4 linked regions of the Homo sapiens genome follow. The protein of the gene in region 4 interacts with the protein of the main gene of each other region in a biochemical or structural test. Each region holds a gene or a part of one and is shown on either strand. Other genes may lie near its edges. The genes, in order: FGA, FBLN1, PTPRF and NID1.

Region 1 (3,012 bases), on a different chromosome or scaffold from region 4:
TCGCAATAAACAGAAAAAATCTTACTGGATCCCGGTAGCTTGATATTGAAAATGCCACTTTGGGTACCTGAAGGATGTGTTTGGAGGACATCATCACAGTCTAAAAAAAAAATTAAGCTGGTTGGAAGAAGTTATTCTCATTTAACTTTACAAAGATAGGCACGGCTCAGATTAAATAAGGCAAATACTGTTTCTTTCCCTTCCTTTCTTTCTTCCTCCTTTCCTTCCCTCCATAGGGAAAGGATGCACTTACAGTGGGATAGAACTTATGCAAATAAGCGGTTATTTATACCTACAAATTGCAAAGGGGATTTTCCTCAAATGTATTTGGAATTTTACTTGCACAAACTAATAGCAAGTAACCAGTACAGGTAGCTAAGCATCACTTAATACTAACACAACTTGTATTTAGCCTGACCTAAATGTCAACTGAGACACATACTAAAAATGTGATTAATCAGTTGGGTGACAATTCTAATAGCACACACTTTGAATAGTGAAAGAATTTGACTAAATAAGCTCAAATAGAGTTTCAGAGGAATTCATTCATCCATTTAACATGTATTTATTGAGTCATGGCTCTGTACTGTTAGGCATTTGGGAATACAGAGATGAGACAGACAAAGGCCCTGCCCCCAAGGAACTTACAGTCTAGCACAAAAACAGACCAAAAAAGTGTAGTTTCAATGACGTGTAACAGAGAGTTAAGAAGGAAATGCAAGGGGCCATGGGAACACTGTGCAGAAATATTTAACTTAGTCTAGGGGGACAGGGAAGGCTTCCCCAAAGGAGAAGTGTGGATACCTCTGACAGGGCGAGATTTAGCATGGCCTCTCTTGGTGCTATGTGTTCCTTCATGATCGGCTTCACTTCCGGCCTCATCTGCCATTTTATAGCTCTTGCTTTCAAATGTGGAGTCTCCTCTGTTGTAACTCGTGCTACTAGTAAATTGTTTGCTGTAACTTGAAGATTTACCACGGGAAGGGAATTCAGCTATCCCAGGGTGATGAGAACTGGATTCCTTTGTATTTGTGAAGATGCCAGATTCTGAGCCCCTAGACTCAGTCTCACTGACAAACTCTCCTAACATAGGTGAGAAGAAACCTGGGAATGTTTTTCCAGTTGAGGCAGTGTCGAAGAAGGCAGCTTCATCAGGGTGCCTATGGCGGAACCCATCCAGAGTACCTATGCCAGACAATGTGCCTAAATCCATTGCCTCGGGACAGTCAGAACCATCTTCGGAGGTCACCACTTCTTTGGTAACTTCTTTGTGACCATCAGGACCAATAACAGTCTTAGTAACGGTTTTAGAGCATGAACGACGCGTGGTGGTTGTGCTACCAGAGGTGACCTTCTCTTTACCAGTCCTGAGCTCTTTATCTCCTTTAGAAGTGACCAGTTTTTCTGTGTGGTACTCTCTCCTTGTCCCTGGACTTACATTTCCTGACACCTCTTCAAATGTGCCCCAGTCTGGGTTGTTAGGCCTCGCGTTCCCAGAGCCTGGGCTATCTGGCCTAAAACTTCCAGATTCAGAGTGCCATTGTCCAGTACTACCAGATACAGAGCTCTCAGAGGTCCAGTGCCCAGCACTTCCGCGTTCAGAGCTGCCAGGATTCCAGGTTCCGGTACTACCAGGTCTAGGGCTCCCAGGGTTTTGGTTTCCAGTACTTCCAGTTCCAGAGCTCCCAGAGTTCCAGCTTCCAGTACTTCCAGGTCCAGAGCTCCCAGGTTTCCAGGTTGCAGTCCCTCCAGTCCCAGAGCTCCCAGGGTTTCGGTTTCCAGTACTTCCAGGTCCAGAGCTCCCAGAGTTCCAGCTTCCAGCACTGCTAGGGTTCCTGGGGCTTTCCGTCTCTGATCCGGTTCCATAAGAGGTGGAGCCTCCTCGAGTAATCTCATTTCCACCAGGTCTCTCTAACTCCATTCTCATCTGCGGCATGTCTGTTAATGCCTTCCACTCTGGGGGTACCTTCTGAAGCTGGCTCTTAAAATTTCCGGGAACCAAGTCTGGAACTGGTTTCATTTTTATCAGTGGTAAGTGTTGCCTATCTCTAGAGGGAAGTAAGTCTTTGGCAATGACCTGTTCAAGTTGCTTCTGCTGATCTTCATAGTCCTTCAGATCTACTTCACGAGCTAAAGCCCTACTGCATGACCCTCGACAAGATCGGATCTTAATATCAATGTCCACCTAGAGAGAGGGGAGAAAAATAAAGAGAAAATGTAGATACAAATACATAAACTACGTCTATTGAGTTCCTGGTAGTTAATTTTCCTTCTGGAAACTGGTTTCATTTTTTTTGACTCGGAGACCTACCACTTAATATTCTCTGTTTTCTGCCTATCGAGCACCCTCAGTGGAAGAGATGTTGGGTATTGCAGGGCTAGCCAGGATAAGCAATGGATGCTGTTTAATTCATCTTAGCCTCAGAATGGATCAAGAGTAAGGTGCTATTCCCTCTCAAAGGAAACGCTAATTAAATGATCCTTGGTGAAACTCAGGCTGAGGGCTCAGAGGTGTGGTGATGTAATGGGCTTTGGAATTAGACAGGGACTGAACATTTGCTTTTGAAATTTACTATCTATGTACCGTTGGAAAATTTACTTAATATCTCTGAATTTTTTTTCTTCAACTGTGGAGTGAGGAAAATAATACCTACTTTTAGGTAGATGATGGATATAACACTTTTCTCTGCATATAGTAGACACTCAGTGCATAACTATCGCCTTCCTTTTCCCTCTACTCAGAAACAAGGACATCTGGGACCACAGCCACATACTTACCTCCAGTCGTTTCATATCAACCAACTGAGCTCTAACATTTTTCTGCAGAAGCTGGATATGCTGTACTTTTTCTATGACTTTGCGCTTCAGGACTTCAATTCTGCTTCTCAGATCCTCTGACACTCGGTTGTAGGTATTATCACGGTCTGAAATCGAAAATATGGTTATTGAAGTAGCTGCTGAGTGATTTGTCTGTAATTGCCAGCAAAAAAGAAAGGAAGAAAGGAAGGAAGG
Region 2 (4,797 bases), on a different chromosome or scaffold from region 4:
TATTTAAAATACAGTTATATAAATTTGACATACTTTATAACATATATTTTTAATATATTGTTTTATATGTATAATAGTTATATATCATATATGAAACTATATAATATACAGAAATATAATAATAACAGAAATAGATCTCTTTTTTTTTGGGACAGGATCTTGCTCTGTCACCCAGGCTAGAATGCAGTGGCACAATCTTGGCTCATTGCAACCTTGACCTTCCCGGGCTCAAACAATTCTGCCACCTCAGCCTCCTGAGTAGCTGGGACTATAAGCACACACCACCATGCCTGGCTAATTTTTGTATTTTTTGTAGAGACAGGGTTTTGCCACGTTGCCCACGCTGGTCTCGAACTCATGGGCTTGTGATCTGCCCGCCTAAGCCTCCCAAAGTGCTGGGATTACAAGCGTGAGCCACTGCACCCAGCTGAAACAAAGACATATCTGACTGTTGCTTGTGGAGGTGCCTGCCATTCCTCCCTACAGTGATTCACAGGCTCACCCAGCCTCTCCTTCTCCTTCAAGCCCCAAACCTCTGAATGCCAGGAAGGGTGGTAAGAAGTGTCTCTGCGCCTAGTACCAGTAAAGTTGGCAGGTCACTGTGGCTAGCGGGGGCACCATTGTTGGCCTCGGGCCTGGGGAGAGAAAAATATGACATACAGGGGGCCCACGGGGGTACGTTAGGTTCAGCCCTGTAAGCCCACACTGACCCTGGTGGGCAGACCCAGCCCAGGGAGGGGCAGGCAGGAGTGACCCCGTCATCAGGTTCTGCTGGCGAGCCCAGGGTGGTGACAGGCGCACGTCTTTTGCCGGGAGCTGAAGACGTTCATGGGCTTTCAAGCAGGACAAAGCTTCAATGTCATCACCAGGTAGCAGGCAGAGCAAGGGTGCTGACAGCCTGCAGAAGCCTGTGCTTATCTCTCCATCGGAGCTAAAGCCCATGTTTGCTTAGGGAACAGCCTGAAATTCCACCCCAGCTGCTGGGCCTTTCACTTTTGAAACATAAGCCCAGAGAGCGAAAGGGGGGAACGTTGTGCCCAGATTCTCTTTCTGAGCGTGAACTTGATGTTCCTGACCAGGAACCAGCCACTCGTACCGAAGGCCTTCCTGACCCCTCAGTTCTCCCCTGAGCCTTTGCTGTGTCCTGGGCACCAAGAGGTGGAGATAGGCTGTCACCGTGCACGTTTCCTAAGCCTGCAGAGGAACTGTTCACAGAATCCAGCCTGGAATCAGCCGTTTGTGGCAAACAGTCAGTAGCTATTTCTCAACTTGTGGTTGTGAAGCTGCAGGCTCCATATTCGCTCTTCACAGAGCATCCAAGCAGGTGTCTCAGTGCCAGCTCACACCGTTCACACTGCTCACACCAGCTCTGGAGAGCTGCTTGTACACATCTCTCCACAAGTCCACTTTCAGTGTTGCCACGTGGTACCGGAAATTTGCCATAGAAATTGGCCGATGGTACGACCAGAGAGCCACCTGTTAGATAGTTACCCCACATCCCCACCCTCAACACCACCTTAGACAAATCCTACTGTCAGAACATGTGGAACGGAGAAGGGACCTTGGCGGTTCATTCATAAATGTCAGCACCCATAGGTCTGTGCCTGTTTGGCCGCAGACACTGGGGAGCAGCCTGTAGCCTTGGCTTGTGCAGCTTCCTCTGCAGGAGGGGTGCCTCTTCCAAGAAACCTGTCCTGACTCCCCAGCCCTCCCCACCTCCATTCTCGCCCCCGCTGGACAATGCACACCCTCCATCAGAGCGTGGTGCATACCTTTCATCCTAGATCTCCCACCAGCTTTGAAACCAGCATCCTGTTCATGATGTCTGGAACCCTGGGAACTGTCCCAGCACCTGTTTAGCACATGTGTGCATGCGAAGGGGATCTGCTGAGTGCTCTGCTCTGGTGGGAAGGCCGCTCTGCACAGCTGGAGCTGATGCCTTGGCAGATGCTGGGCATCTGAATCGTGCAGTGCAGGAGCACAGGGGCATGGCACCGTTTGTTGCTGGGGAACCTAGGCCTCAAAAGGGCCTCAGCCTCTCCGCAGTGCAGTGAGGACTGTCCCATACTCTCACTGCGTACAGAGTATGGGAGAGTCTCTGTGAGGCTTTGGGTGCCCTGCAGAGGGAAGGCAGTGCCAGCTGGGCCTGGTCGGGGGCCATGGAGATGGCGGGCCCAGGCTGGGGAGGACTTGTGGCACCCACTCCCTTACCCGCTAACCCGGATCCCCTGGAATCTGCAGAATGCCTGGGGTTGCTCCTCTTCTACCCTGCCGTGGCTGAGCTTTGTCTGTGCCCTGTCCTCTGGCCACGGTCTTTGCCTGATCCCTACCCTGGTACAGGCAGAGCTCCCTGCAACCCCCAGCTGTTTCCCCAGAACTGACACCAGTCTCCCTGCACCACCCATCCTCCTTTTGACTGCCCTGGGGACGCCACTGCTGCTCTGATCCTCTGTCACTCCAGCCACCTCTTGCTTCCCTGTTATCACAAACACTGAACAGTGAGCTCAGGTGTCAGCCTCCACAGAGGCATGCACAGCAAGGGGTCCGGAGGCATGCCCCATGGAGAACTGGGGGTGCTCTGCTTGCAGGAGGATCCAGGGCCCATTGCAGTCCTCAGATGTTCTGGGGGAGAGGATACGCCTGCTTCATTTCTTCTCAGGGGTCAGAACTGGGCACAGGGGGTTGGAAGGAGGGAGAAAGATGTCTATCAGGTACCCACTGCATGCCAGGCCCTCTTCTAGGCTCCCTTAAAACCTTTCAGGTAGGCCAGTCACGGTCGCTCATGCCTGTAATCCCAGCACTTTGGGAGGCCAAAGCGGGTGGATCACCTGAGGTCAGGAGTTTGAGACTAGCCTGATCAACATGGAGAAACCCCGTCTCTACTAAAAATATAAAATGAGCCAGGCATGGTGGCACATGCCTGTAATCCCAGCTACTCGGGAGGCTGAGGCAGGAGAATGGCTTGAACCCGGGAGGTGGACGTTGCAATGAGCCGAGATCACGCCATTGCACTCCAGCCTGGGCAACAAGAGTGAAACTCCGTCGCAAAAACAAAAGACAAACAAAAAACACCTGTCAGGTAAATGGTGGTAGAGCAGAAAACCTGGGCTCAGAAGCTGGCATTGATCCCAGAGCCATCCAGTTTCAAAGCCCACACCCACAACTTTCCTCCAGGTTGGGCAGTGCATGATGGAAAGGCTGTCCCAGCAAGTAGTGAGTTCACTTTCACCAGTCCCTGGAGGCAGGAGCAGAGCCTGAGCTGACCACTTGGAAGGAGATGTTATTCAGGGGACTCGAGCATCTGGCGTAGGATGGGACTCCATGAGGTCTATGCCTCCTTCTAGCTCTGAAACTCCTCAAGGGAAACCATTTCCCAGATCTCTACGTTGCTGCAGTCCCTTCTAACTTCCAGCACACCTTCTGCTCTCTCCGCAGGTGTCGTGCGCCAGGTGCGGCCCATCGTGGGCCCATTTCATGCCGTCCTGAAGCTGGAGATGAACTATGTGGTCGGGGGCGTGGTCTCCCACCGAAATGTTGTCAACGTCCACATCTTCGTCTCTGAGTACTGGTTCTGAGGGCTGGTCTGCCGCACAGCCGCAGGTGCACCTCCAGGCCAAATCATTGCTGCCAGTGACTGTGGTCTGTACTTGTTTATACCCTCAGACTTTTTTAATGTTAGGTATTTGTAGCATTAGGCCAACATGTATTAAGCTGAGCCAGATGAATAAGTCCATCTGATGTATTTTCGGTGTTTAAAAAATGAGCCCAGTTGCTCAACTGTTTGGTTGAAAACCTTGCTCATTTTTTAATGCGAAGGCTAAGTGTCACCCCCTTTCTCTGCCTCTGGCTGGGCCTTGCTAAGGGCCAAGGAAAGAAAGACATTTTTTAGGGGGCAGCCAGTCCAAATGCCAAAAGAAGACCAGTTCTTGCCCTGATTGTATGAAATTTGACATTTTGGCACTTTTTTTTTTTTTTTGGCCAATCAGATTTTCTATGTTCTAAGGACATGGCTGCTGTAGAATAGCACAGACGTGGATGATAAATTATCCCCAGAAGCAGCATGACAGAATGCCTCGGGGAGCACTTGGAAGGGAAATTGCAGTTCTGTTGAAATAGAGGAAAATCCCTTGGTAAAGACACAGCCTGTTAGGCTCGTGTGGGCCTCCAGTATGTTCACCAGGGGAATGGCTGGGATTTCTCGGCACTCTGCATCATCCATCTTTTCTTATAGGTGGGAAAATAAACAACTTTGTGATCCTCCTGATGGCCTGTGCATGAGAGTCTTTCAAGAAGAGGGCTCTCTGCCAGCTCAGGAGTCTTCCGCCAGCTAAGGGACTGGAAATCTCCCCCCGCCGTCCCCCTGCCTCACCCCACCCAAGGTTGTCTCAGTGCTCCTCCTGCCCCTCAAGGTTCTGGGGCGGGGCCCAGCTTGTGTATTGGAAAAGCTTCCTACACACGTCGTTTTCAATGCCATGCCCACCCTCTGAGAAGTGTGGCTCGGGTTTGTTCCCTGCCCCATGTCCAGTGCTGCTAGGAAAGCCCAGGGCTCTGGCTTCTGTGTGACTTGCTTCCAATAGCATCCCTCGTGGCATCCTGATCCTCTCTAGAAATCCCTGGGGGCAAATAATGACCCTTCCGCAGCCATGAGTCCCTGCCAGACACAGGCCTGGGCCAGGCATTTGACATGAGGTGCTTCGCTCATTCCTCCTGGTGGCCCAGTGTGGTGGGTATGATCACACACAATCTTGAGATGGACAAACTGGGCTCAGAGAGAGGAACTTGGCTGCCAAAATTCAC
Region 3 (7,044 bases), about 190 Mb from region 4:
GCTTGGGTGAGGAGTTCGAGAAGGAGATCAGGACCCCCGAGGACCTGCCCAGCGGCTTCCCCCAAAACCTGCATGTGACAGGACTGACCACGTCTACCACAGAACTGGCCTGGGACCCGCCAGTGCTGGCGGAGAGGAACGGGCGCATCATCAGCTACACCGTGGTGTTCCGAGACATCAACAGCCAACAGGAGCTGCAGAACATCACGACAGACACCCGCTTTACCCTTACTGGCCTCAAGCCAGACACCACTTACGACATCAAGGTCCGCGCATGGACCAGCAAAGGCTCTGGCCCACTCAGCCCCAGCATCCAGTCCCGGACCATGCCGGTGGAGCAAGGTGTGTGCTGTGGACATGGCATCCCTTCCCGAGTGTGGCTGCATCTGGGGGTCTCTGCTCTCCTTGAGCCACTGACCTCTGGCGACTGTGATCCACCAGCCTCTGGTGTGTGACCTCCAATCTCTCATGACTGTGACCACTAACCTCTAGTGAATGGGCACCACATTCTTGATGCCTGACCTCTGCTGTCCTTAACCTACTGACCTCTGCTGTATGACCTTCTGATCTCTTGTGACCTTGACCCACTGATCTCTTTTGACTGTGTCACTATTCTTGGGTGTGCAACCTCCTGATCTTTGGTGTGTGACACTAATCTCTTGGGGCCATGACCCACCGACCTCTAGTGAACATGCTCCACCACGCTCTGGTGTGTGGCCACATGCTTCTCATGACCGAAACCCACTGACCCTCTGATCACTCTGGCCTGGTGTCCATCGGCTCAAGCTTTTACACTCGCGTTTCTGGAGATTCTGACCCTGGTTGCTGTGGCATCCCCCGCCCTGTTTGGTGCTCACTGTGGAAGAGCTTGGGCTGGGAGTTCAACTGTGCCGTTTGAAGCTGGCTGGGAGTGGGGCGCTTGGTACTCTGCAGCCATCCTTCAACCCCCTGTTCCCCAACCAGTGTCTCATCCTGGCCATTCACCTTCCACCCTTCCAGCCCATTCACCCCACCTCATATACCCAGCAGAGCTGACTCTCTCTATGCCTTTGCAGTGTTTGCCAAGAACTTCCGGGTGGCGGCTGCAATGAAGACGTCTGTGCTGCTCAGCTGGGAGGTTCCCGACTCCTATAAGTCAGCTGTGCCCTTTAAGGTGAGTAAGGGCCACGGCCAGCTGAGCCTGGCACACACACAGGCCTGCTGGGTGCTGTCTTTCCAGTCCTAACCCATGTGCATCCGGCTGTGGAGCAGGAATGTGGTTGTGTATCCGTGCACTGTGCCTTGCAGCCCGTGGTAGGGAACCTCACCCAAAGGCATTGATTGCCCCTCCCGTCCCCCACAGATTCTGTACAATGGGCAGAGTGTGGAGGTGGACGGGCACTCGATGCGGAAGCTGATCGCAGACCTGCAGCCCAACACAGAGTACTCGTTTGTGCTGATGAACCGTGGCAGCAGCGCAGGGGGCCTGCAGCACCTGGTGTCCATCCGCACAGCCCCCGACCTCCTGCCTCACAAGCCGCTGCCTGCCTCTGCCTACATAGAGGACGGCCGCTTCGATCTCTCCATGCCCCATGTGCAAGACCCCTCGCTTGTCAGGTGTGCACACGAGGTATCGGGGGAGGCGGGGCAGGGCTGGAGGTAACCAGCAGTGACAGTCCTGATTCCTGCCCTGCCCACCCAGGTGGTTCTACATTGTTGTGGTGCCCATTGACCGTGTGGGCGGGAGCATGCTGACGCCAAGGTGGAGCACACCCGAGGAACTGGAGCTGGACGAGGTACCTGGGGAGGGGATGGGGACACTGACAGCCCCATTGCAGTGGTCAGCTGTGGCCTTCCTGCCCTGAGCACTGTCCCAGTGACTCTCAGATTCACTCCCCAAATTGAAATCTCTCTTCTGGCTGGCAGCCCGCCCCTCTCTGGAGAGAGGGACTCTGAGGAAACCATCTGGGAGTATTCACAGAACTCCCGGAGGGCTTACGAAGAATCCCTGGGGTGGGATGTCGTGGAGATGCCTCTGCAGGTCTAGAGAATGCCAAGCCCTGTAGACACTGCAGAGCCTCGCAGATCTAGAAGCTATGGAGGGCTTAGTGAGCCTTATAGCCAGGAGTCCCTGAATGTTTGAAATCCTTCAGTCCTTTCTCATAGCCAGTGTGGCAACAGCCTGGTTAGGGTGGGGCAGCTTACACACAGGGCTGCTTCTCATGGGCTGGTGGGGAGGAGTGGCTTCACGGTGTCTGTTACTCTGTAGGGGCAGTGGGTTGGGCAGGTGTGGGCTCTGACACGGAAGGTGAGCCTTGATCTCGGCCCAGGGAGCTGACATCCCAGGCCACAGCCTCAGGGCTGGCCGGCATGCTCCAAGGCCCCTCATGACCCCCATGCTCTGCTCTGCCAGCTTCTAGAAGCCATCGAGCAAGGCGGAGAGGAGCAGCGGCGGCGGCGGCGGCAGGCAGAACGTCTGAAGCCATATGTGGCTGCTCAACTGGATGTGCTCCCGGAGACCTTTACCTTGGGGGACAAGAAGAACTACCGGGGCTTCTACAACCGGCCCCTGTCTCCGGACTTGAGCTACCAGTGCTTTGTGCTTGCCTCCTTGAAGGAACCCATGGACCAGGTCTGCCTGAGCCGGCTTGGCTGTCAGCACCCTGATTCCCTGGGCCTGGCCTGAGACGATGCCAGTCTCAAACACCACAAGACCCCAGGTCTTTATCAGTTTGGGGGCTTCGAGATCCTGGGGCAGCACTAAAGACCCAAGATCTGTCCCGGGGATCCTAAGACGCGGCCCTGGGACCCAGAGGCCAGACCTAATGTGGCTCCAGGGACCCAGTCCTGCCAGGTCCACCTTGTAGGGTCTGGGAGACCAGGCCCAGGGTAACCCAGACCCAGAGCCCTTTCTCCAGGATTAATAGGCAGAGGGTGGGGGGTTCTCACGCTGAGCTCACAGCCTGCTGTTCTCCACCGGGCCACAGAAGCGCTATGCCTCCAGCCCCTACTCGGATGAGATCGTGGTCCAGGTGACACCAGCCCAGCAGCAGGAGGAGCCGGAGATGCTGTGGGTGACGGGTCCCGTGCTGGCAGTCATCCTCATCATCCTCATTGTCATCGCCATCCTCTTGTTCAAAAGGTGAGCACTGCCCTCAGAGCTCCGGGAACGGCCACCTGCCCCTCGCCTTTCAGGCCCTCTCCGGGTGTGGTGCCTGTGGAGAGCGTGCAGCCTTGCATCCTGGACCCTGAGCCTCAGGCTCAGCAGGAAGGCAGGAAGGGCAGGAGCAGTGTGTGTGCCTACCTGTGTCTGCAGGCCTGCATCTGTCAGGTGAGGGAGCCTCTGCAGCAGCCTGGGCGTGAGGAACTAAAGCCTCAGAGGGTTGTCTCATGTGCATCCCTGGCACGTCTGTCTGTCTCTGTGTTTCTGTGGATAAGAGTGCGTCTGTCTCCTCTTCAGTTTTAAGACACCGCCATCTCCTGAGCTCCTACCTCGAGTCCTTTCCTTCTGCCACCATTCCTGGATGATTCCCCAGCCCTACTCTCCTGCTTAGGCCTAGAGAGGTCGAGCTGGAGGCCCACAGGCCATGGATGCTCACTAACAGACATGACTGATGGCCTGCTGTGCCCGTGCCATCCGCAGCGGCCTCAGCCTCAGTGTGTCTTTCCCACTCAGTTCTCTATCGGCAGTGGCCACCACCTGCCCTAGGAGTCTCCCTTCCTATCCGTGCACCTTCCAGCCTGAAAGGGATTTCCAAAGATTTAACTTTGTCACTCTCAGTTTAAAACCTTTTGATGGCTGCCCACGTAAAGCCCACCCTCTTTAGCCTGACAGCCAAACACCTGGCTAATCTGACCCCTGCCACACTCCTGACATTGCGACACTGAACTCATTCAGTGTTCAGGCCCACACAGGGTGTGCCCTCTGCGGATCTCCCTCCCCCTGCCCACTTGGCAACAGCAATCTCATCGTTCAGGACTCAAGTCCATGCTCTGGTGCCTGCAAGGCCTTGCCTGGCCCCTACCCCTTCCTTGCACAGCTGTCCCCTGTGATGCTCCACTGCAAACGCAGCTGGGCCTGTGTGCCAAGCCTTCAGCCCCCAGCACTGGGCTGAGCCCACAGGCATGTCAGTGAGCACCTGGCAGATGAAGATATGCTAGTCTGTGTGTCTGAGCACATCTCTGCACCATGCAGGAGAGCCTGTATCCTGTGTGCCTACCCTGGACCCACTGTTCCTTCCTAAAGAGTCCACTCCTTCCTCCCAGGGTGGATGGACCTGTGGGCGGGTCCCTAAGGAGTGTCCCACAGATGCACTCATCCTTCCCACTTCCACCTGCATTCTGGGTCTGTCCAGAGAGGTAGACCCCCTCCCTGTGAATGTCATGTGGGTGCCATATAAGGGGCCTGCAGGGTCCCCATGTCATTAGAGGGCTGAGTGCTTGGTGGAAACTGTGACCGTTCCTTTCTTCTGTCCTTGCTTGTCTTTCGGGACCTAGTAAACAAGAAAGGTAGGAGTTGTTCCTTCTCTCTTCACACACCTCCCCCTCTACTTCTAATCCTTGGGCCAGCAGGGAGGGATGACGCTTTGACCAGAAGTCCCCTGGCCTATGGCTTTAAGCAGCAAACTGTCCAGTCAGCTCAGCAGGCTCCCTGGTTCAGGACTGAGTCCTCATTGGTGTGAGGAGGCAGTTTCTGTCTCACTCTTGCCAGTTCAACTCTGCAGAGGATGCTTCTTCTCTGGGGCACATACATAATACAGACTGCATTGCTTTCCCTGAGCGTACAGAGCTCACCAGAACCATCACCCGGCTCCCAGTTCTCTGAGAAGTTGCCTAAGTGCTGCGAGAGACAGTCTCGCACAGAGCAAAGAGCAGTCACTGTGTGGAACAGCAGAGAGGCATGTCCTTGTACCCACCTGAGCACACTCACTCAAATTCTTCTTTCCGAAGCACATGCGTCTGCAGACCACAAGTAGCCTCTGGCTATTTGTTGGCAGCTGAATCCTATGGTCTGTCTCTGACCCTGTCCTTGTAGATGGGAAAACTGAGGCCAGTGAGAGAGGACTCTGCCCAGCTAGGGTGACGCCTTTCCCGTCCCTCCCCTGCTGCCCTGGGCATTTACCCTGATACTCTGAGGGCCAAAAAGCTGGGGCCCTGTCTCCTGTGCTGTTTGTGTATTTTATGTGTCATTTGCATGTTTGTTCCCGGTGGTTCCTGCTACTCAGCTGGGTGGCCTTGGAGATAGCAGTCACTGTCCTGCAGTGACCTGCCTTCTATCCAAAGGAGCTGCTCGCCCCTGCAACCCCTTCCTCCCTGCTGCACTGCCCCTCTGCTCACGCCACACTCCTGCTCTCCCTACCCCCTCCCTGCCCTGTGTTCTCTCATGTCAAGGCTGTTCTGGCCCTGGCTCCTCCGCGCTCAGAGATCCTGGGAAGAGGTGGGGCAGTAGGAGGACAGAGCCGTGGACATGGGGGCTCCTTGGCAGCCAGCCATGCCATGTGTCACTGTCTCAGCCTGGACCTCAGGTTCTCACCAGCCTCCCTTCTGTCTCTCTAGGAAAAGGACCCACTCTCCGTCCTCTAAGGATGAGCAGTCGATCGGACTGAAGGACTCCTTGCTGGCCCACTCCTCTGACCCTGTGGAGATGCGGAGGCTCAACTACCAGACCCCAGGTAGGGCACTCCTATGGCCTGTGTGCCCCCAGCCCAGACCTAGCAGGCCTGTGGGTCTGTTCTGCAGGTCTCAGGGTCGCCACTGAAGTTCCTGGGCCGCATGCACTTGTTCCTGCTCCTTTTCTTCCTTTCTGCCCTTCTCCCTGTGCTCATCCACTTTGGTTGGAATGACTGGGGAGCCCCCATATCCTGCAGCTGGACAGGTGCCCCAGGCCAGGACCCTCTTAGGTGGCAAAGCCACTTAGCCACTGCCTTGTCTTCAGTCAAGGCCTCTGAATATGGGCTGAGGACCTCCCAGAGCCCACGTCTCTGCCACAGGGTGGCCAGTGTCTGGCGCACGCTCTGACGCCTCCACATGAAAGAGGGGCATGTTAGCAGTGGGAGATGCCTCACCAGACATCTGTGGGGAGATGAAGTGCCTGCACCTGAGCCTTCCTGGAGGCCGACCCCAGGTTTACCATACCACGTACCTGCCCCTTCTCCTAGCCACTCTCATGGGGCTGTCCACCTCTTCCTTCTACCTGAAATGTTACTCCTCCCAACACCCAGCAGACACAGCTCAGACCTCTCCTCTTGCCCACACCCCCACAGGGTTAGGTGTCTCTTCTTGGCTCCAGGAACCTCCCTCCTTCTTCCTTTTGACGCCTCTCACAGTGAGCTGGGATTACCTCAGTGACAGTCTCTGAGCTCTGTGGTGCCAGGAACTGTGTCTTGTCATCCCCCATCCCTTGTATTCAGCGCACGATGGGTTCTTGTTGAATGCCTGTGAAATGAACACACAGACAAATGAAGGAATGAGTGAACTAATGCATACACACAGGGTTTGTGTATGTATGAGCTGGTTATTCTGCATGTCAAATTACCCCAAAACTTAGTGGCTTAAAACAACAATAATTATGTATTATCTGTCACAGTTTTTGTGAGGCAGGAATTCAGACAGGGGCACAGCAGGAACAGCTTGTCTTTATTCCAGAAAGTCTGGGCCCTCAGCCGGAAGACTTGAAGGCTGGGAGCTAGAGTCATTTAAAGCAGGGGTTGGCAGACTATGGCCCGTGGCCAAGTACAGCCCACCACCTGTTTTTGTAAATAAATTTTTACTGGCTGGGCGTGGTGGCTCATGCCTGTGATCCCAGCACTTTGGGAGGCTGAGCCGGGTGGATCACCTGAGGTCAGGAGTTCGAGACCAGCTAATGAAATCCCATCTCTACTAAAAGTACAAAAATTAGCCAGGTGTGTGGCCCCTGTCATCCCAGCTACTCAGGAGGCTGAGGCAGGAGAATCACTTGAACCCAGGAGGTAGAGGTTGCGTGAGCCAAGATCGTACCATCGCATTCCAGCCTGGGTGACAAGAGCAAAACCCCATCTCAAAAATAAACAAATAAATAAAATTCTA
Region 4 (7,044 bases):
TAAAACTTTTTTTTTCTTTTCGAGGCAGAGACTCACTCTGTTGCCAGGCTGGAGTGCAGTGGCATGATCTCGGCTCACTGCAACCTCTGCCTCCCAGGTTCAAGCAATCCTCCTGCCTCAGCCTCCCAAGTAGCTAGGACTACAGGCGTGTGTCACCACGCCCAGCTAATTTTTGTATTTTTAGTAGAGATGGGGTTTCACCATGTTGGCCAGGATGGTCTCAATCTCTTGAGCTTGTGATCCACCTGCCTCGGCCTCCCAAAGTGCTGGGATTACAGGTGTGAGCCACCACCCCCGACCCTATTTTTTTTTAAAGAGTATCTACTTTGATATATATATATTTTTTAATCTTCACAAACCAACTCTGAAACTGACGGGACCTGGGAAGAAAAATAATCAACAATTCTAATTCCAAAACCAAGAGGAAATAAATGTCAAAGATAAGCTTCATAGACAGCCAAAAGAACTTCTAAAATGTTTTTTCAGGTGGATGAATACATTTCTGATCTGAGAAATCACAAGAAAATCTGACTTTCAAAACAATTCTAACGGACGTTTTCTCTTTAAAACAGACAGAACGGAATACTAGGAAACTTGAAAGAAGACACACTCAACAGTCTCCAAAACCATGGTCCTAATCCCAAAAGATCACTGAGCATCTCTGAAGCCACTGGGCATATAACACCAAGGCTCCACGGCTGTGAGAGTTCAGCCTCTACTTTCCCAAGCTCTTATCTTTACAAACCACCATGTAATGCTCACAACTGACATCTCCCCAGCAGTACGCCTGTCTGGAAGCCCACACATCCAAGATCGTTACCAACTGCAACTTAAATGGTCTTACCAACTCCTGTTTCCTCAACTTCATCCACATCTATGACCTGAGGGTGCTGCTGGTGAAAAGTCTCCACTGCCAACTGGAAAGACCTGGTTCTCTCTGTGGGAGGTCCAAGGGGCCTTTCGGTAGCTGCCCGGCGCGGGGAGAGGACGCTGGGCACACTGTATGTGTCAGCACCTCCCCTTCTCAGAGCCTTGTAGGAGAAGGGCGTGGTGCCCACATCCTCCAGGCCCAGACGAGTGGTCGCCAGGTCATAATCTTCATCCTCATCATCATACTCTGCCCCATCTTCAGTTCCGAGGATCACGTCTGCAGGCACCACGCCATTGGTGGTGGCTGGACTCCCAATCTCAAACACCCAGACACCCTGCTGCCCAGAGTTACTACTCCTAGGAGGAAGGACAGGCTTCTTAGAAACAGGCCAGCAACCCACCAACAGCCACCACTACCCAAGCAGAGGGAGCCCTGAGGATCTGTGTTGGTCTGCAAGCCATCACCTGCAGCTAGGACTGGAGAGTGGAAGGGCACTGGCCGTCATGTCTGGGCGTCATGTGGCTGAGGCAGTCTAGGGCTGTCTGGTGAGACTGTGTCCAAATGGGCACAATACTAGCACAAGCTCAGTCCCAGCCATTCCAGAAGTGTGCTCCAGGGACACTATCAGGACTTAAAATTCAACTTGCTCATCCTAATTGCTGGTTACATGCTCTACCTTATGAGCTAAGGTGGCTCATAGGACTGACAGTGGCTTTAGGACTGAAGTCATTCATGCTCTCCACTATCTCTTTCCATGACATGGTATGATACAATTGAAAATACATGTTTGGTCTCTGTCCTCACATTCTGAAACAAGAGCTCCTACAGCCTTTGGAATTTCTGAAGTGATAAGAGTGTCTTTTGTAGGCTAATGAGTTGACTGATGGCTGGGAGCTCCTAGACAGTTTCAGGATGGGGGCTGGTGGCCAGAAAGACCAAGGCATGATTAGAAGGTTGGAATGTCCAGCTTTCCCCACTGCCTCCAGGGAGGGGAGATGGGCTGGAGATTGAGTCAATCACCAAGGATCAGTGATTTAATCAACTGTGCCTATGAAATAACACCACCATAAAAACCCTAAAATGATGGGGTTCAGAGAGCTTCTGGGTTGAACACATCAAGGTGCGGGAAGGCTGGTGTACTCAGAGACGGCATAGAAACCCTGCCCCCTTACCCATACCTTGTCCTATGCCTCTCTTCCATTTGGTTGTTCCAGAGTTGTATCCTTTAGAATGAACTGGTAATAGTGAAGCATTTTTCTGTGTTATGTGAGCCATTCTAGCAAATTATCAAATCTGAGGAGCATGCCATGGAAACCCTCCATTTATAGCTGGTTGGTCAGAAGTACAGGTGGAAACACAGGACTTGGGACTGGCATCTGAAGTGGGGGCAGTCCTGTGGGACTGAGCCCTTAACCTGTGGGGTCTGCAGTAACGCCAGTGCTAGAATTGAACTGAAGTGTAGGACACCCGGCTGGTGTGCAGAGAATTGGTTGGTGTGGGAAAAAAAACCCCACCCATTTGGTGTCAGAAGTGTGAGTGAAAACATTGCAGACGTGGTTTTTTAGAAATCCCAACTCCAGGGCCGGGCGCGGTGGCTCACACCTGTAATCCCAGCACTTTGGGGGGCTGAGGAGGGCAGATCATGAGGTCAGGAGATCGAGACCATCCTGGCTAACATGGTGAAACCCCGTCTCTACTAAAAATACAAAAAATTAGCTGGGCGTGGTGGTGGGCGCCTGTAGTCCCAGCTGCTCGGGACGCTGAAGCAGGAGAATGGCGTGAACCCGGGAGGCAGAGCTTGCAGTGAGCCAAGATCGTGCCACTGCACTCCAGCCTGGGCGACAGAGCAAGACTCCATCTCAAAACAACAACAAAAACAACAAAAAAAGAAATCCCAACTCCATTGGCTGTGAGATCTTGGACTAGTCTCAGTTTACCTTTGGTGCTTAAAGGATATGGTGAAAAGCAAATGAGATACAAAATCCAAAAGCATTTTATAACTATAAAATATAGTAGAATATCCCTAATCTCTACTTCTTCCTCCACCATTTTTACCATTCTTCTGTGTCTGTGATTGGAAGTGCTCCTATCAGAAATTACATGAAATAATTATATTATACGGTGGACAGAGGGGACATACATTACTCAGTGGAAAATACTGAGCAAAACAATGGGGTGGGGTGGGGATGATAAATCACAAAAGTCCTGCATAAATAGGATGTCTAATCAATTTGTCTGCCTGGGATTCAAGTAAAGACAGTGGTGTGTGGGAGCTTATATGGACTAGCTTGTGAGAGCTGGCTGTTAAAGTTTTAGGAATTTTGCAAGCCAGTTATTAAACACAGCCATTCTAAACAATTAAATTACATGAACTTCCAATTAAACAAGTTATATTTTTTAAAAGGAAAAAATATTCAAAACTCATCATATTCTAATCCTTTTGCTACTGTCCATGCTCTTGAAATTATATATATTAAACCTATTTTATCTTTATGGTGAGAATATATATAATGGTGCATGTTTTCTGAACTCTTCAATGAGTGACATGACGTTAATAACTTGAACTTGGCCATCGTAGGAGTATTTACATCACAGAAACAGGCAAACGCTATAAATCAGGTTCCTCTGCCCTCATAAAACCAGTTGTTAAGCATTTACCAGCACATCACTAAGTGAAGGGCAGAGGAATTCAAGCTAGATTTGAAGATATAAAATTAAAAGGTGGTTTTAGGGGATTCACTCTTGGTTTTTAAAGAATAATGGGAGAGGAAAGGTTTTAATCTTCAAAATCCAATTTGGGCTTTTCCCTCTTTTGTCAAATTCTACAACATAACCTGAGAGCACCATTTCTGTTGTAAGAATATTCCCCCTAGTCAATGTGAAGGAAAAGGTTTTCTCAGCCTTGAGATCAAAGGAGATAGGTTTGAATAACCCTTATTTCTAACAGTGTTTATAGACAAAATGGTAAAAACTGTCTTAAGGCCGGGCGCGGCACTTCATGCCTGTAATCCCAGCACTTTGGGAGGCTGAGGTGGGCAGATCACCCGAGGGCAGGAGTTCAAGACCAGCCTGGCCAACATGGTGAAACCCCGTCTCTACTAAAAATACAAGAATTAGCTGGGCATGGTGGCACACACCTGTAATCCCAGCTACTTGGGAAGCTGAGGCGAGAGAATCACTTGAACCTGGGAGGCAGAGGTTGCAGTGAGTCGAGATTGTGCCATTGCACTCCAGCCTTCCAGCTTGGGCAACAGAGTAAGGCTCTGTCTCAAAAAAAAAAAAAAAAAAAAAAAAAAGAACTATTTTAAATGAGGATGATATCTAAAAAATAGGATATCTGTTCATTCTAAAAATACATTTCCTTAAGTTCATCAGAAAAAGAGTATCTCATAATATAAAAACTATATGCAAAACTTAAATCCATAGGAACATTTTTAGGTAATGATCTATAATACACATTACATTATCCACATTAAAAAATATTAAGAGGAGAATCTACTGAAGAACAAAGAAAGCATACTTGGCCAAATTTTCAACTGATTCCCTGTCATTAGCAAATATGTTATAAGCTCCGTTGCTCTTCCATAAGAATCCCACTGAACCTTGACTGAATGCAACCACGGCAGGAACTTGGTTGTTTTCCTTCTTTGAGAATGTCGTATGGAACTGCAGACCATCCTCAGGATAAAGGAAAATGGCATAGGAGCTGGAATCAGAGGAGGCTAGAACAGCCTGGAACGTGTTTCTCTGTGAAGATGAGTTAAAATTCAGTTACTCGGAAAAATATCGATAGATTTTAAAATGTGTTATTCGCCAGACTATCTATAAAGCGTACAGTGCTATAGAGCGATGGCAATATTCTCACCTTATTCTAAAAGAAGGACTTTTGTAGCAAGAACCTAGGATTCTGGGATAGTTCCACTGAAATATCCCTAAGGCTATGTCAACATGACATTTTCTGATTAATTCATAAATATCTTCTGCATAACTGTGGCCCTAAGGTTAACCAAAAATTATACAGATGGTACCTCCAGATGGTGGCCTAAAATCTCACGCAGTTTAGGAAATTCTTACCCAAAGACTTTGTTTCCATGGCTGTTAACATATTCAACCGCATTCATCGTTTAACAAACATTTATTGAACCCAAGCACCGTACAGTAGAAAAAACAAAACAAAACATGAGATTTGGGAGAAAACAGACCTGGATCCAAATCTTTGCTCTACTCATTATTATGTGACTTGGGCGTGATACTTGAGTTCCCTAAGCCTCGATGTTTGCATCTGTAAAATGGAGATAAAACCACCTCCTTCACAGAAATGAGGAAGACTACATGAGGTCACGTATGAAAGAGCAGGCACATGCCGGGCGCGGTGGCTCATGCCTGTAATCCCAGCACTTTGGGAAGGCTGACATGTGAAGAAAACATTGCAAAACCTGAGGTTGGATTCTGTAATCGAAACATTTGCAAAGCGCTGCAGGAGCCGTAAGAGGAAGCGTCCCATGCCAGGAGCGGTGGGAGTGCATCCCATGCCAGGAGGCTGTGGTTGGTCAAGGCCTCACGGGAGGGCCCAGTCTGAATGAACAAGCAGGAGGAAGCTGCCACCTGTAGGGGGGTCAGGGAGAGGACGTCCCAAACAGAGAGGACAGCCTGTGCAAGATACTGCGGATAAAAAAAAAAGAGCAAGGGCAAGGTCAGGGAATTACATGTAATTTGGTATAGCGGCTGCAAAGGGTATGCGGAGGTGGAACAGATTAGGCCCAAGAGGCAAGCAAGGGATCCATACCAATGGGTTAGGCATTTATCACCCAAGTGAAAGGGAGGCAGCTGAGACACTTAACATTTAAGCTGTTTTCAAGTTTGGCACTCAGACAGATAACAGTTGGCAAGCAAAATGTGTCATGCAGGCCCCTAACAGACTTTCCCAAAGTGTGCTCTGTGGGATGTAATGCATCTTTTTTGGAGCGGGGGAAGGGAAGAGGTATGGTCACAGGTTTGGAGACTGCTCAGTTAAACAATATTCGGCAAGGCTGGAATGGTGGCTCACGCCCTTAGTCCCAGCTACCTGGGAGGCTGAGGCAGGAGAATCACTTGAACCCAGGAGGTGGAGATTGCAATGAGCCAAGATGGCACCACTGCACTCCAGCCTGGGTGACAGAGCAAGACTCTGTCTCAAAACAAAAACAAAAACAAAAACAAAAAAAGTAGTATTAGGCAAGTTGCAAGTTTCCTGACTGCAGGACTTTTCAGAGTGAACAGGGTGAATCACCAAGAGGGAGATATAGTTTTAGCATTTCCCAAACTAGAAGGCCTTTTCCTCAAGGTGTATCTTGTAGGACTGGTGTTTTGTGGTACACACTTTAGGAACCACCAGCCTGAAATACCTCCCATTTATATGAAGTGCTTTGGGACCCTTCAAGTTTCTTTCTTCCTCATTTTCCTATAAAGGTGAAGTTATGGTAGAGAGAAATTATTTTTCCAAGGGAAAATCGAGGCCTGTCCTAAAAAGTCACTTCAGGTCTAACAACGAGTTCCTGACCTACTCAAAGACCCTGCTTCCTTCAAGGGCAAGTCCGTGCTCTACAGCCTGGTCCTTCCAGCCGTCCCTGATGACTGCGCCCACGGAGAGGCCAACCCTGGGTTATGACAATACTTGGGTTTTGAACCACTCACATGGTCCAAATGATTCTTGTCTCCCCAACTAGAGTCTGGGCTTTACCTTTCTATCTTTGCATCCCTCAGGAGTACTTTGTTATTTTAACCTATCGTTTCATATTAATAATTTCTCTAGTCAGAAACTATCCTTCCAGCCGGGCTCGGTGGCACACACCTGTAATCCCAGCACTTTGGGAGGCTGAGGTGGGTGGATCATTTGAGGTCAGCAGTTGGAGACCAGCCTGGCCAATGTGGTGAAACCCCATCTCTACTAAAAATACAAAAATTAGCCAGTGTGGTGGCCCATGCCTGTAATCCCAGCTACTCGGGAGGCTGAGGCACAATAATTGCTTGAACCTGGGAGGTGGAGGCTGCAGAGAGCTGAGATTGTGCCACTGTACTCCAGCCTGGGCAACAGAGCAAGACTCCATCTCAAAAAAAAAAAAAAAAAAAAAAAAAAGGCCGGGCATGGTGGCTCACGCCTGTAATCCCAGCACTTTGGGAGGCTGAGAAGGGTG

Evidence for each region.
Region 1: the proteins of NID1 (region 4) and FGA form a complex in vitro, tested with the Homo sapiens proteins (one study listed by BioGRID).
Region 2: the proteins of NID1 (region 4) and FBLN1 form a complex in vitro, tested with the Homo sapiens proteins (3 studies listed by BioGRID).
Region 3: the proteins of NID1 (region 4) and PTPRF form a complex in vitro, tested with the Homo sapiens proteins (one study listed by BioGRID).

The regions. Positions count from the first base shown.
Region 1 is NC_000004.12:154,584,734-154,587,745, forward strand, and holds the end of FGA (fibrinogen alpha chain isoform alpha precursor), read right to left. Parts: intron 2,925-3,012; coding exon 2,779-2,924; intron 2,186-2,778; coding exon 761-2,185; 3' UTR 542-760; downstream 1-541. UniProt on the Homo sapiens protein: Cleaved by the protease thrombin to yield monomers which, together with fibrinogen beta (FGB) and fibrinogen gamma (FGG), polymerize to form an insoluble fibrin matrix. Fibrin has a major function in hemostasis as one of the primary components of blood clots.
Region 2 is NC_000022.11:45,596,872-45,601,668, forward strand, and holds the end of FBLN1 (fibulin-1 isoform D precursor), read left to right. Parts: intron 1-3,435; coding exon 3,436-3,575; 3' UTR 3,576-4,264; downstream 4,265-4,797. UniProt on the Homo sapiens protein: Incorporated into fibronectin-containing matrix fibers. May play a role in cell adhesion and migration along protein fibers within the extracellular matrix (ECM).
Region 3 is NC_000001.11:43,603,848-43,610,891, forward strand, and holds part of PTPRF (receptor-type tyrosine-protein phosphatase F isoform 1 precursor), read left to right. Parts: coding exon 1-342; intron 343-1,055; coding exon 1,056-1,153; intron 1,154-1,342; coding exon 1,343-1,596; intron 1,597-1,681; coding exon 1,682-1,775; intron 1,776-2,392; coding exon 2,393-2,611; intron 2,612-2,966; coding exon 2,967-3,121; intron 3,122-4,476; coding exon of another isoform or gene 4,477-4,488; intron 4,489-5,535; coding exon 5,536-5,651; intron 5,652-7,044. UniProt on the Homo sapiens protein: Possible cell adhesion receptor. It possesses an intrinsic protein tyrosine phosphatase activity (PTPase) and dephosphorylates EPHA2 regulating its activity.
Region 4 is NC_000001.11:236,041,066-236,048,109, forward strand, and holds part of NID1 (nidogen-1 precursor), read right to left. Parts: intron 4,619-7,044; coding exon 4,392-4,618; intron 1,228-4,391; coding exon 845-1,227; intron 1-844. UniProt on the Homo sapiens protein: Sulfated glycoprotein widely distributed in basement membranes and tightly associated with laminin. Also binds to collagen IV and perlecan. It probably has a role in cell-extracellular matrix interactions.